Homo sapiens: one gene and its partner. The protein of the gene in region 1 purifies or fractionates together with the protein of each later gene. This does not show direct contact. Each region holds a gene or a part of one and is shown in the gene's direction. Other genes may lie near its edges.

Region 1 (7,018 bases):
AGTTATAAGAAATTCTGTCAAAGTATTTGTCTATCCTTTCATAATGCAGCATTTATTCCGATCTGGCATTTAGGATGTAATTATTAAGGTAATGAAAATGCCTTATATCTTTTCAATGAAGGTTGCCACAGTTACCAGACTATTCTTTCACTCTTTCTGATATGCAAATGTATTTGTAGACCATGAGAAATGAAAGTATACATAGGAGGGTTGTAGTATAATTGCTCCCCTGTGAAGAACATTGTTAACAGCTCCCTGCCAGTTTTGAAGGTCATTTCCTCGTAAATGCAGATCTGGTCTACTCATCTGTTTTTCATTCATCTGTTTCATTTATGGAGATACATATATATATATATATATAATATATATATATATATATATATATATATATTTACCACATTTATCAGCTTACTTTGTTATTTGGAGAAAATAGGGAAAATTAAAAAATGAAAAGATAACTAATATCTTTGAACTCAGTATACTGAAGGAGTCATTTACGTGCTTAGGCATGTAATATCCTAAGGAATTTTTATGTTTTTAAGAAACGGGATCTTGCTATGTTGCCTAGGCTGGACTTGAATTCCTGGGCTGAAGTGATTCTCTCGCCTCAGCCTCCCAAGTAGTTGGGACTACAGAAGTGCACCACCATGCCCTGCTTATAAGGAATAGATTATTTTATTATTATTATTATTATTTTTGAGGTGGAGTCTCGCTCTGTTGCCCAGGCTGAAGTGCAATGGCGCAATCTAAGCTCACTGCAACCTCTGCCTCCTGGGTTCAAGCGATTCTCCTGCCTCAACCTCCCGAGTAGCTGGTATTACAGGCACCCACCACCATGCCTGGCCAATTTTTGTATTTTTAGTAGAGACGAGGTTTCACCATGTTGGCCAGGATGGTCTCTATCTCTTGACCTCGTGATCCACCCGCCTCGCCTCCCAAAGTGCTGGGATTACAGGCATGAGCCACTGCACCCGGCCAGGAATAGATTTTGAACTATCTTTCAGCTTATAATAGTTTATAAATTATGAGAATATATATTGCAACATTTCTAATAGAAATATGTGTTGAAAAAATACCTATTTTCAAGTCAGAAATGTTAATCAGTTTTTTGTGATTACTGAAAGGTGAGCTACTCTAGAAATGAATTTGATTTTACTGAGAGACATATTAAAATAATGGATTAAGCAGCCAGGTTAAATTGTGCAGTTAAATAAGATACTACCATAAATAGAATGTGTGTGCAGGGGCATTTCCATAGTATAACCAATATTTGGATTTGATTGTGGCTCAACCACTTAGTAGCTGTGGTAGCTAGGGTGAGAGAGGGAGGGAGAGAACAAATGTATTGAGCCCTGTGCTTGCCAGGCACTCTAGAGTTTATAATAGATTAAGAGAAAGCTATAAATCATAAACCCTAAGAATTATCACATCTAGTTCGATGCCTTACATAGTTTTAATTCAATAAATATTTGTTCTAATTTGTTTGTGCTACATGATTGCTATGTTAACTTCACTTCAAATTTTCTTATTCCTGAAAACAATAAACAGTTCTAACACCTGTATAACTCTTTATAGTTTTAATCCATTCCATTACAAACCGTTTTGCTGTGTGACCCCTCTCCCGGGTGAGAAGTACAGTATGTTAGTGTGGTATTTATGAGGTCTTTGAGGTATTTATGAAGTCAATTTCTGCAATTATCCTTTGTTGAATTAGTGGAGTGCCAGTTGGTATAGCTCCTATGACTTTTTGGTTTGTCTCTTAGGATTTCAAAACTTTCAGGTCCCCCTGCCTCCATCTCTGCAAGTTTAGAGGGCTTAGATCAAATGAATACTGTGTGATGCAGTACTTCATGGAGTGTTAGAGTTCTGCCAGAATTAGGATTTTGGATGTAGGGATCACCATAGCTACAGAAGTTTCCTTCACACTTTTCCCCTTAGTACCCCATAAAAGAGGAGACAGACCTCCTCACAGCCTCATTTTCTCACCTCTTGCTCCAAGAGGAAGTGGACCATGCTTCCCATCCTGTTTCTAGTTATATCTATTTTAAGTTGAATTCACCTTTGATAGCCTCATCTATAACATCCTGTCTGACTCTGCGAGTTGCTCGTCTCTCAAATGTGTCTAGTTAAGGCTTGTACTAAAGAAGTGAATATCATGGAGGATTGGCAGCAACCTTATAGCTTCTGTTTCTCACTTCTGTAGTGCCCAGGAAGGACAGTGCTGCTTTCCTGGAGGCCAGGTGATGGTTGTTGCCCCTGTTTTCTGGTCTTGACTTTTTGGGGCTTAGGCCAACCACCTCAGTGGTTTTCTTATGCAGCTGGGAAATTTGAAGGGTACTAAAGCATCTCCATTCCCATGTTGCAGGGAGAATGGTGTTTCCCCTAAGACAGCAAATCGCCAATTCATATGTCTATCCTAGCAAATGAAGCAGGTCTTCCATTCCTTTTTAAGACCCTAGACCCTGGTGACCAATAAAACTCTTTGGACTTTTGGCTAGACATGGTGGCTCATGCCTGTAATCCTGGCAATTTGGTAGGCTGAGGTGGGAGGATCACTTGAGATCAGGAGTTTGAGACCAGCCTGGTCAACATGGTAAAACCCCCGTCTCTACTAAAAATACAAAAATTAGCCAGGTGTGTGCTGTTACATGCCTGTAATCCCAGCTGCTCGGGAGGCTGAGGCAGGAGAATTGCTTGAACCCGGGAGGTGGAGCTTGCAGTGAGCCGAGATAGCACCATTGCACTCCAGCCTGGGTGGCAGAGCAAGACTCTGTCCCAAAAAAAAAAAAAAAAGTCTTGACTTTTACAAGCACTGTAAATACAGGTAGAGCCAAAGATAAACCAGGGGGAACAGAGGGTCTAAGTTCACATACTCCCAACCTCCAGTTTCTCCATCAGGCTAAAACTGTCTCAGAGAAATTTAAATTATGGACCTTTTGCCTCCCAAGGTCAACATGTGATCTTCATTATTGTTGTCAACATTTTGACCAAGATAGGCCCCTATATTGGTCTTTCAACAGTTGTAATTGTTGTATTATTTCTAAAGATTGTGTTTTACTTTTGTGGTCTTACCAACTTTCTAGTATCATATCCTAGATTTGGGAGGCAGGAACTTGTAAAGACTCTTAGGTTCAAATTCCCCAGGCTTTTGCCTGCTACCGTTAGACTAAACACAAACTTGTGTGAATCAAGTTCTCTAAAGAGATCCTTCCGTGCCATGCTCATGAAGGCAAAATAATTGGGCCACATGCTTGGCAACCACTGAGTTTGTGTACAATAGCTCCATTCACTTGTCTACAGAAAACACCCCTTTGACAGTGATTATAGCTTTCAACCCCCCACCCTTCCACTTCTGACTCCCCGAATTACCATGACCTCATCTGCTGCTTCGTATTTAGAGGTGCTCTGGACCACTCCAGAAGTGCCTAGAACTCATTCCTGTGTGTTAAAGATCAGTTCAAAGCCTCAGACAACCACTGCCCACCAAGAAAAACCATTCAAAATCAGGACCAAATCTAGCTATTCTTATGCCTCATTTGAGTCATTTTACTATGTCACAATTCAGGGGCCCTTTTCCTTCAGTAGAAATTGTGAGGCCTCTCAAAGCATGGAAAATGAAATAAGGGATTGGATAAAGCAGTGGTTCTCAAAGTATGGCCCCTAGATAGGCATTATCCATATCACCTGGGTACTTGTTAGAAATGCAAATTCTTGACCCCATCCCAGACCTAGTGAATCAAAAACTCCGGGGATGGAGTTCAGCAGTCTGTTTAACAAGTCTTCCAGGTGATTCTTAGGCTTGCTGAGGTTTGAGAATCACTACTACTGGGTTACAGAGATATTTAGTAGGTAAAATGGACAAGTGTTGATTGACTGGATGTAAAATGTGAGGGAGAGGGAGAGGTGAAGAAGGAATCTCACATTTCTAACTTTTGATTTATTCCTGAATTGTCTTAATAGATTCTCTTCCCTTGCAAGGTAAATGCTAGGTTGTCTACAGATATGCATACCTATTTTCAAGTGGGTAGGAGTCTAAAGATTCTGCAGTGCGTCATTATACCAGTTTGATGCTGTTGTATTTATTGGTTAGTATTTTTTGTCTCTCCTGACCTAAAAACAGTAGATTATTGTATATTTGTATATTTTTTAAAAATAAATTTTGTTCACAACTTGACGCACTAGGGGAAAGGAAAAGTCAAGGCCCCTGTTGTCGAAGGGCTTACAACTTAGGGATTGCAAACACGTAAATAACAAACTATAAAGCATCATGGAATTTGGAGCTAAGACAAGGGGATATGTTGTGGCAATGCAGATTTGGGTTGGAGTTTGGGAAATGGGGAGGGATTCCAAAATTAATAATTGTTTTTCAAAGGAGATGAAATTTGAACCAGGTTATGAAAAATTGCCAAAAGCAGGGCCAGGCACTGTGGTTTATGCCTATAATCTCAGTGCTTTGGGGGACCAAGGCAGGAGGATCCCTCGAGGCCAGGAGTTTGAGTCTATCCTGGGCAACATAGCAAGACCTTGTCTCTACAAAAAATTTAAAATTTAGGCTGGCATGTTGGTGTATACCTGTAGTCCTAGCTACATGAGGGGGCTGAGGTGGGAGGATTTTGTAAGCCCAGGAGTTTGAGGTTACAATGAGCTATGATTGTGCCATTGTACTCCAGCCTGGGCTACAGATGGAAACGCTGTCTCCTAAAAAAAAAAAAAAAATTGCCAAAAGCAAAAATGGCATGGGGATGCGTAAAGAGCATTAGAGGCTGAGTTAACAGCAGACTACTTCTAAGTGGAAAAGTTAAAAATGTAAAGTCTTTAGTTTTTTTCTTTAGTATGTTTATCTGACTTACTCTGGTATAGTTGAGTCAAACAACAGAAATCTGCTTGGGGAAAATTCCTGTCAGTAAATTTCAATCATACTTGACATGCAGAGAGGAATCAATCTAAACTAATAATGCATAAAGCTAGTGTTGAATTAAATCTAATTCTAAAATTGTATAACACAAATTAAGATTCTTCACAAAGCAATGGCATTATGTCAAGAAAAGGTGGATTCAGATTTCAATCTTCATTCTGTGGCTGCAGTAACTACATATGAATTTTATTTCCAAGAGGACTCTTCTCTTCAGGATCAGTTTAATCATCTGACAAAAAAGAGGGTATCAAATTGTAACATTTAGCCGATGTTTGAAAATCCTTTGATGAATACAGTGCAGCCCCAATTGTGCATTAACAGTTAAGAAATGTGACCCATGGAGTCCTAAAAGGCACATTTCAGCATCTCTGTTCCCAAACCTAAGTGGCCACCAAAAATAGCTTCTCTTGAGGACCGAGGATTGCGTCTCTGAATTCCCCAGTGAACCCCTGACAGCTTCGAAGTTCCCAGCCTTATACAGGGTGTACTTTTAGCACTCAACACAATGCCAGGCTAGAGCTTTGGGGATGGGAACCTCCAAGAAAGCACTGTTCGGCATTTGGGCAATCAGTGTTCGGCAGAATGCCAATGCTAATAGGTTATTTTGCTCTGGAAAAGGAGAAAAAGAAGGGATAGTCTAAAGACTGATGAATAGGGGATGACTGACAATACGGACACTCCACTTTATTGGAGAGATTAAGGGGGCTTGCTGTGAAGTGGTATTGTGGGAGCCAGAAAAATTAGCAAAGGCCCACAGGCCCAAGACCTGAAATAAATAGTGGTACATCAAACCCGCATGCCCTAGGGCACACTCAAATGTCTGGCCACTTTCAGTGAACTTGTAGCAGGAAAAAGCCAAATCATTAGGAACCCTCATAGTCTGGTACTCCATCCAGGCACTCCTTAGTCAGGCAAATTATCCTTCACCTCCAGACAGGTGCAGAGCCTTTTTTCTCTACACCCTGACTTAACCCAAGGGCCTGTAGTCTGGGCCTCAGTCTAATTTTGAGGATACTGAGTGGAAAAGTTGGCTTCAGGATTTCCAAAGGATTCCAAATACTCTAGGCAGGAGGTGCCACTAAGATTCTTGTTTTGTTAGACTTGAACCAAGCAGGTAAGAACATTGATCATAACACAAGAAAGGCCGGGTGCGGTGGCTCACGCCTGTAATCCCAGCACTTTGGGAGGCCGAGGTGGGTGGATCCCCTGAGGTCTGGAGTTTGAGACCAGCCTGACCAACGTGGAGAAACCCTGTCTCTACTAAAAATAAAAAATTAGCTGGGTGTGGTGACGCATGCCTGTAATCCCAGCTACTCTGGAGGCTGAGGCAGGAGAATCGTTTGAACTGGGGAGGCGAAGGTTGTGGGTGAGCCGAAATCACGCCATTGCACTCCAGCCTGGGCAACAAGAGAGAAACTCTGTCTCAAAACAAACAAACAGACAAAAAACACAAGAAAGCAGAATTAGTGAATTCACATAAGGATCTCATGTACTTCCAGAGGTAATTTAAGATGGAGAAAGCATCTAGCCTGCCCTCTTTTAGATTTTTTGCCTCTAGAGCATTTTTTTTTTTTTAAGATAAGAGTCTCACTCTGTCGCCCAAGCTGGAGTTCAGTGGTATGATGTCGGCTCATTGCAACCTCTGCCTCCTGGGTTCAAGCAATTCTTGCGTCTCAGCCTCCTGAGTAGCTGGGATTACAGGCATGCACCACCACGCTCAGCTAATTTTTGTATTTTTAGTACAGAAGGGGTTTCACCATGTTGGCTAGGCTGGTTTCTAAACTCCTGACCTTAAGCAATCCACCCGCCTCAGCCTCCCAAAGTGCTAGGATTACAAGTGTGAGCCACCATGCCTGGCCTTGCCTCTAGAAGACTCTAAAGGCCCCAAAGTTATTATGGAATTGGAGGTTTGTAGGTCAGAAGGACTCCATGGATTGGCAATGATGCCTGGAATGTTATAAGGCATATTAAGCCTGCAATTTCTCAGTATACACTTATCTGTCTAACAGAATAGCCCCTCAGCTCTTCGGGAGGCCATTTGGAAGTTATACTATCAAAAGAAATTTGGCTGTTGAGCAGTGAAACTCTGATAAAAACATAAGG
Region 2 (7,601 bases), on another chromosome or scaffold:
AATACCAGGAGGAGAATGTCACTGGGAACCAGTTTAGAAAGCCTCCCATTATAACAACTATGCTTTTGGACAATATTGGGTTATAATACCCTTTCAAACAGAAAGGCTTTAAAAATTACTACATTTGCAGCTACTCGGGAAGCTGAGACAGGAGGATCACTTAAACCCAGAAGGCGGAGGTTGCAGTGAGCCGAGATCACGCCACTGCACTTAAGCCTGGGGGACAGAGTGGGACGCTGTCTCAAAAAACAAACAAACAAAAATACCTACATTTCTCACATGCCTGTCAGAAATCTAATGCACGTTGCCCAGCCTAACCTATTATATTAAGATAATGATGACACTGGTATAAGCCATTCTTCTAGCAAAAAACCTGTTATATTATGACAGGAACTTTTTTTTTCTTTTCTTTCTTTTTTTTTTTTTTTAGTGCTTCAGTCATTCTTACCAGAATTCAGCCAGGTTTTATCTGTGTTTTACTAGAGGAGCCGAAAAAAATGCTCTTGGTTACCACCAGAATCAAAAAAAATGACACAGCTGAAAAAGAATTTCTGTGCTCACTTAGTCCAATTCTTTCATTTTATAGCAAGGCAACAGGCTCATTACTAGCATTGCTGGGTCCATGTTAGGTTTTGCTGAATTTAACATTAGATTTGAGGACAGGACCAATGGTACTGCCTCCCCTGGGAGGCCTGCAGCATGGATGTGGATTAAGAAAATTGAGATGGAAAATAAGGCAAGGCGTTAAAAAAAAAAAAAGTGGAAGAGGAAAAGAGGGGAGGGAGAACTCTGAGAAAAAGAGACAGGACTGCAGAAGTAGAGGAAAAGAGAAAGGCTAAAACATATTCACTGCAGGTACCACTGGGGGGCTCCATGACTTTCTGATGTAGCTGTTTTAACACAGTGACATTCTGATGTGTCTATGAAAACAATGAAACTTTTGGTGTGTTGTCATTGATAGACAGCATGGCACAATGACTGGTTAAGACTTAACTTTGGAGTTATAATGCGGGGCTTGAATCCCATCTCTGCAGATAAACTGTGTGACCTCTGCAAGTTACTTAACTTTTTTTTGCCTTATTTTCTAAAAGGGGAATGATAATAGTGCCTACTGAATGGAATTTTTGTCAGAATAAATGAGTTAATAAATGAAAATAATAATAATGATTCTATTATTATCACATGATGAGGACACAGACCTTATTCCCAGTCCTCAGCTGGGTTTGAAGATGGAGTGAGGCTTGGTAATAGGGAGAGGATAAGGCTTAGGGATGGGAAAGGGATAGCAGCAGTTAGGGTAAGGAGGCAAGTTGTGGGTATCACCAGCAAAGTGCAGCCAAATCAGACTGCCTCATGCATCACCAAGCAGATCAAACAGACTGCATTAGAAAGTCTATTTGCCCACACCGCCATCTTTCTAATTGTAGAACATTTTTCTATCCCCACCTCCCATACTCCCTTCATTTCAGCTCCTCTTGAAGCCTCAGTTTGTTCTTCCTGTTGCTCATTCCCTCAGGAGATGAATCCCCAGCAATGTAGAGCTGCAGTGCAGTTGAAGTAATAAGCTGGAAATCAGAACTATATAATAATTTTATATTATTACAATTATTATGTAGTATCAAAATTACTTTCTGTTTTTTGAGACGGAGTCTCACTCTGCCGCCCAGGCTGAAGTGTAGTGGTGTGATCTCGGTTCACTGCAACCTCTGCCTCCTGGGTTCAAGTGATTCTCCTGCCTCAGCCTCCCCAGTAGCTGGGATTACAGGCACACACCACCACGTGTGGCTAACTCTTGTATTTTTAGTAGAGACAGGGTTTCACCATGTTGGCCAGGCTGGTCTCGAACTCTGACCTCAGGTGATCCACCCACCTCAGCCTCCCAAAGTGCTGAGATTACAGGCATGAGCCACCGTACCCAGCCCCAAATTACTTAATTTTAGTTTTTGTTTTGTACTATCACTGTGGTTCCTATCTTCTCCAGAGCTTTTTCTCTTCTGGCTTTGTACTTTTTATTCAAGCATGTATTTACATTACAGACATCTTATCAAATAATTACTGCTTAAACTAGAATTTGCTGAGCACCTATTATGTCCTAGATACTGTCCAGTGCTTTCTTACAATAACCTTATGTATTAAGTATTGTTACTCTACCTGTAAAGGTAAGGGAAACTATACCTGAGAAATCATCACTCACATAAAAAAAAAAGAGAGAGATTCTATTCATGTCCTTATTCTTTCAGCAACCCCCAATAGCCTAAGTAGTCTCCCAGGCATCAGGACTAACCTGGACTTCACCAGGACCAAATATCGTCTGCCTCAACCTGGCTTCATAGACCAGGACTGGAGCCTGAAGAGAAAGAACAATTCTAAGCAGAAGTTCAAGGAGCTGTTTAAAGAGGGTCTTTATGAGATTGTAACACAGGAAGACACAAGCAATGTTGCTTCAGTGCCCGGGGGATAAATTACTACACAGAACCAGGGCAAGAACTGAAGAGAGTAGGGTGTCATTTTCCCACTTGACAGGTTTGCCCTGTGGCATTCACTGGAAAATAATGTGGACCAGAAATCAATGTTTCTCAGTGGCCGGGGTGAGGGGCAATCTTGGAAAACCAGAGTACGAAGTAGAAGGACATGGGAAGGACAGGCAAGACAACCCCAGGATTCTCAGCAATTACTGCAGTGGGGAAGGAACGGAGGGGCCTCAAGTCCTTTACACAGGGCAAAATGATGGGGCAGTGAGAGTTGATTATGGTTATCTGTGGCTTCATTTGTATTGATGAGAAATGTGGTTACACAAAAATAAATAAGACAAATTGTCCTCAAAGAAGTGAAATTTTATGGAGTCAGACATGCAAACAGATCATTAAAAGGTGACCAGCACTATTATAATAGTCCTTACAGAGGAGGTAACAACCAAGTAAGGCTCTGAAGGATGAACAAGAGTTTGCCAAATGAAAAAGAGATGGACCAATATTCTAGCTAGGAGGAACCTCACATGCAGAGGCTTAGAGTTATGGAAAATGGAGAGATAAGTTAGGAGCAGATTGTAAAGAGGCACACCAGGAGATGTGGAATTTACTTTGTAGGCAATAGAGAACCAGCCCACCAGCCCAGACTTTCAAGTAGGGGGATCATGGAATCTTTTTTTTTGCGGGGGGGAAGGTATTTTAGAGGAAAATTTGGACAATTAGTTGAGAGGTGCAAGGTACCACCTGAATGGCAGTTGGGTAAGGACTAGAGTCAGAAGAACCACTGATGGGACTGTGGAAACAACTTGTGCAATGACCCAGCAGCCAGATATCATGCTGGTTCAGGAACCGAGGGAGGCTCTGTGAGGCCAGAGCACATTTGGCTGGAGAAGGAGGAGAGGATGGCAGTAGAAGGAGAAGGAAAAGAAGGCTGCTCACTTGCATGCAGATGCTGTGAGCTGACGGGGCAAGTTCAAATTGAAGTTAGAACAGACCACTGGGGTAGTCAAGACCTTGAAGGATGAACCTGTTTCTTTTTCATTCCTGAATCTTGCCCCAGCACCTTGGAGGCTGGGGGTGGAGGAGGTGGTGAGGTGGGGTGGGGTGGTGAGGAGCTCAGAAAATGTTTTCCTGAATTAGAGAACTGAAGGAATCAAGGCTCCGCTGAGCTCACTAAGCGCTGGAGCCTGCTGTAAGTGGTCAAGTCGGGTGATACCCAGCAGACAAGTAATTTGTGTGCAGACCGGAGTAGATTACGGAGGACCCAAGGGTCAGGCTAAGGATCCTGAACACCATCCACGATAGAGTGGAGACGTGCGCTTCGGAGCCTGAACTATGCAGCAAGCAGTGTGTTTACTCAAATACTATACAGTTGGAAAATCTTAATTCTCGATTTACATTGCCAAAAAAAAAAAAAAAAAATCTCCATAATACTCCCCCATTTGTAAATAAGCAAATCCGAACTAACCCTATTCCTTGGGACCAGAAGACCCAGTTTCTACCGCGGATAGATAGCATCCGCCTTATGCTAAAAGCTCTTTTTTCTGCGGTGGTGGGGGGCGGCGGGGAGTGTTTGGAAAGAACGGTTGCAAAAACAAAACAAAACCCCCAAAACCACTCACCCAATCTCAACCACCCCAACTGATGAATTTCGAAGAAAGTGCTTTTTAAAAAAGAAAAAACTAGAAGACCACAGACCTCCCACAGAAAGCTAAACCCATGAGAGTGGCATTCAAAAACTACCCATTTTCTGGAACATCTTTTGTAGCTAAATCCCAGCCATCCTAGCCCCGGAACACTCCCGCCCTCCGTCCCCGCACCCCCACCCCCGCCGCCACACGCGCTCGCAGGCTGACGGAGGTTGGCGGTGGGGCGGCCGCTCAGGTGAGGGGCCACCCAGTCCCTCGAGGCGCCGGCGGCTGGAGCCCATTCGCTGCCGTCGCAGCAGCAGGGCAAGAGGGGGTTGGCCAGGAGGGGAGGAGGCGGAGGACGCCCGCAGGGAGTGCGGGGGAGGGGGACGGGAGGACGCTAAGGAGAGCCGGGAGGGGCAAAAGCACGGCGCGGGGAGGGGGAGCGGAGAGGGCGGGAGCGGCGGGGGCGCGCGCCGGCGCGGGGCCAGCCTCGCTTCGCCAGGGTCGCTGGCGGACGCGCGCCGCAGTCCGAGCCTCAGACGCGCGGGCGCGGGGGACGGCGCAGGGGCCGCCTGGCTGGAGCAGCCAGAGGGGATAGCTTCGTCGAGAACGGAGGACACCGGCGGTCCAGGGTCCTGGGCAGTCGCGCCAGAGCTGAGCGGAGGGCGCGGCGCGAGAACGTAAGTAGCTCCTTGCGCGTCTGGCGGTGACACTGGGTCCTGCTCGGGGGTGACGGCTGGAGCGGAGGAGGACGCGCGAGGCTGCTGCGTTGTCACTTGGACACCGCCGCGGGGTTCAGCCGAGCGCTCACCGGGCTGGCAGCGCTGCAGGAGGGGCAAAGCAGATCTCCAACTCCCTTCTCCCCTGCAGGCCCCCGACACTCCCGCGGGCGCCGAGAGGGAGCAGGGGGACCTGCGCTTGGGTGAAGGCACAGCTGAAATCCAGCAGCGCCGGCACCCACCACCCCCTCCAGCCTGTGGCCAACTTCTGCTCCGCGCCCGCACCCCACGCTTTCCGGGAAGCCCTGCCCAGAGCTCTTGCTCGTGGGCAGTTGGGCATGGAGAGCCTGCGGGCCCGGCACGGCGGCTTCCCGGGCTTGGACACGGAGGCGCGGGGCGTCACGCCACAGTGCCGGCGGGGCGAGGAGCGCGGGGGCCGGGCCGGGAGCGCACGGGCGTGTGCCTGTTCGGGCCCCTGCGGACACGTCTGGGCGTGGGCTTTGTTCGGAAGTGCGTACACCTGTGCTGACCACGGAGTTCGGGGGCGAGGCCGACTTCGCTTCTCCAGTCGCTGCCTGGAGAGGGCTCGGGGAATCGAGGCGGAACGAGAGAGACACGGAGGACAGAGGGGTGGGGCGCTTGCGGGGGCTTTGTCGGCCTTACAGGTGCGGGTCCCGGGAGTCCCTGCGCCCCGCCCTGCCTCCGAGGGCTGGGACTTGTCGGGGCCGGCGCACCGGGCTGGGGGCTGCCTGGAAAGATTGCTTTCCCAGCCCAGGCTCTTAGCGGTGGGATCTGGCATCCGCTCCGCCCGGGATGCTGTGTTGAGCCAGGAGTGATTACCCGCCCTGGAGCATCCATCTCGCAGCGAGCGCCATCTGCGCCGAGCGCCGCCCCCGGCCCCCTCCACGCCGCGCGGGTGGGCGCTGCCGCATCCTGGTCCCAGGCGGTTGGCCAGCTCAGCTACTCCCGGCCCGCATCTGCTAGAGTGCGGAGGGGGACGGGGTGTCGCAGTAGGGTGAGCAAGGGAGTCGTCATTTCTCCCAAAGCGGTGTCCTCAGGGCCGCAAGCGCTGCTGGAGGGCTCCCCGGGCCCCGGGGCTGGCGAACAGGCCGCTTCCTTCCCCGGATCGCCTCCCCTCCCGCCCGCGCCCGCGGCCACATCTTCGTCCCCCGTACGCTGGCGGGTGGCCCCTGCGCCGCGGGCACCGAGGGAGGGCGCCGAGCGGTGGCGTTTCTTTCGCACCCCGCCTCTCTCCTTCCCTTTTCTTCGCATCAGGGGCTCCAGCCCTTGGCTACCACCGGCGCAGAACTGTCCTGAGAAGAAAGCTTTCTTTTCCTTTCCGAGTCCCAGATGGTTAACGCTCAGAAGTGCGGGTCTAAGAGACTGGGCTCTTCCTCGCCCCAGGCTTTTGCAGGAGGAGATGGAGCCAAGTGTAATGAGGCAGGAAGCATTGGTTGTGCACCAGGAGCTCCCCCTGGGGTGGTCCTGGAAAGGAACACAGTAACCTCTGAATACAAACCTCGGAGGCTGGGCTGCTTTATGGGACTGCATTGTGCTAACCATGCCCTGCTGTTAAAATATTGTAATAATGGCAGTACTTGCTGAAGTACTGAAATGGAGTTAGGCAACTGATACTTGCTGCTTTAATGGTAACGATAGCCAACCGGTTTTGAGAGCTTTAGATGTGCTGGGCGCTGCGCATGTTACATGTATCATCTCATTTAATTCTCACAGCAACCCCATTTTAAAAATTAGGAAATGAAGGCTTAGAGAAACCAAGTAACTTTCCCAAGGCCACACAGCTAGGAAGTAGGGGAGTGGGATTGTTTTTGTCCTTGTGCTTTACAATCCAAGACTGAGACTGTGGCCTTTTGGAGGCTTATCAGTTTAGGGGAAACCTAAACCACTGAGTGTTCAAAACCAGGGAGATACATTACAAGCCCATTTAATTCGGAGCTCTGCAGAACTCACAGTAGCAGGCAATATTGTGATTCAGAGAACTGTATTGTGGAATAGCCTTTTATTCCCATGTAACTCCTTTACATATTCTTTTATTCCTGTTAGCTTTTAAGTACGTGGCTGTTAACCCACAATCCAACCCATTACAGTCACTGAACAACATGTTCTTAGTAACCAGGGCCTCTGTGATTACATAGATGTTCCTGGCACATCATAAAGTTTCATAAAACTTTTTTTTCTTTAAAGAAAAGGTCCCCAGCCCTGAATGTCCTTTGTACACGGTTTTGACTGCAAATGAGTTACTCCTCAAATTGGATGTTGAGTTTGAATAGGACCCTAGCATCCAATCTTAGGAAATCATTCTATTTCCTAAATATATAGAAACATGTGGGGGCATTTATGAAGATGCTCCATGTTAACTAGTAAAAAAGGAAAATTTGAACCAAAGTGGAATCAGCTATTTCTGGAATAGCTTTTAGAATTATAATTAACTGATCAATTGGAAAAATTGATTTATTTTGCATTCATAATCCTACTGACTCATAGTCTTGTTTCAACCTTCTTTTTACTTTATTACAGGAAAGTTGCTAAACATTTTACATAATCCAGGAATTTTAGAGCTGTTAGAGGACTCAGGCAACATTGTATCTAACTAATCCTTCGAGTTTCAAAACAACTGCAATAGGGCTCAGCCTCGTAATGCAGGGTAGTGATGAGGTCTTTGGACTGAAGGCCATTGCCCTTACACCACATCATTTTTGTTAATGCTACGGTAACAGTGAATAGAAAGCAAAGCATCTTTGGAAATAGTACTTCCTGTGAGG

Evidence for each region. The genes of interacting proteins can lie anywhere in the genome.
Region 2: the proteins of FRMD5 (region 1) and NRCAM purify together in Homo sapiens (affinity purification with mass spectrometry; 2 studies listed by BioGRID and IntAct, with this or other methods). This does not show direct contact.

The regions. Positions count from the first base shown.
Region 1 is NC_000015.10:44,185,266-44,192,283, reverse strand, and holds part of FRMD5 (FERM domain-containing protein 5), read left to right. Parts: intron 1-7,018. UniProt on the Homo sapiens protein: May be involved in regulation of cell migration. May regulate cell-matrix interactions via its interaction with ITGB5 and modifying ITGB5 cytoplasmic tail interactions such as with FERMT2 and TLN1.
Region 2 is NC_000007.14:108,453,421-108,461,021, reverse strand, and holds the start of NRCAM (neuronal cell adhesion molecule isoform A precursor), read left to right. Parts: upstream 1-4,585; 5' UTR 4,586-4,779; intron 4,780-7,601. UniProt on the Homo sapiens protein: Cell adhesion protein that is required for normal responses to cell-cell contacts in brain and in the peripheral nervous system. Plays a role in neurite outgrowth in response to contactin binding.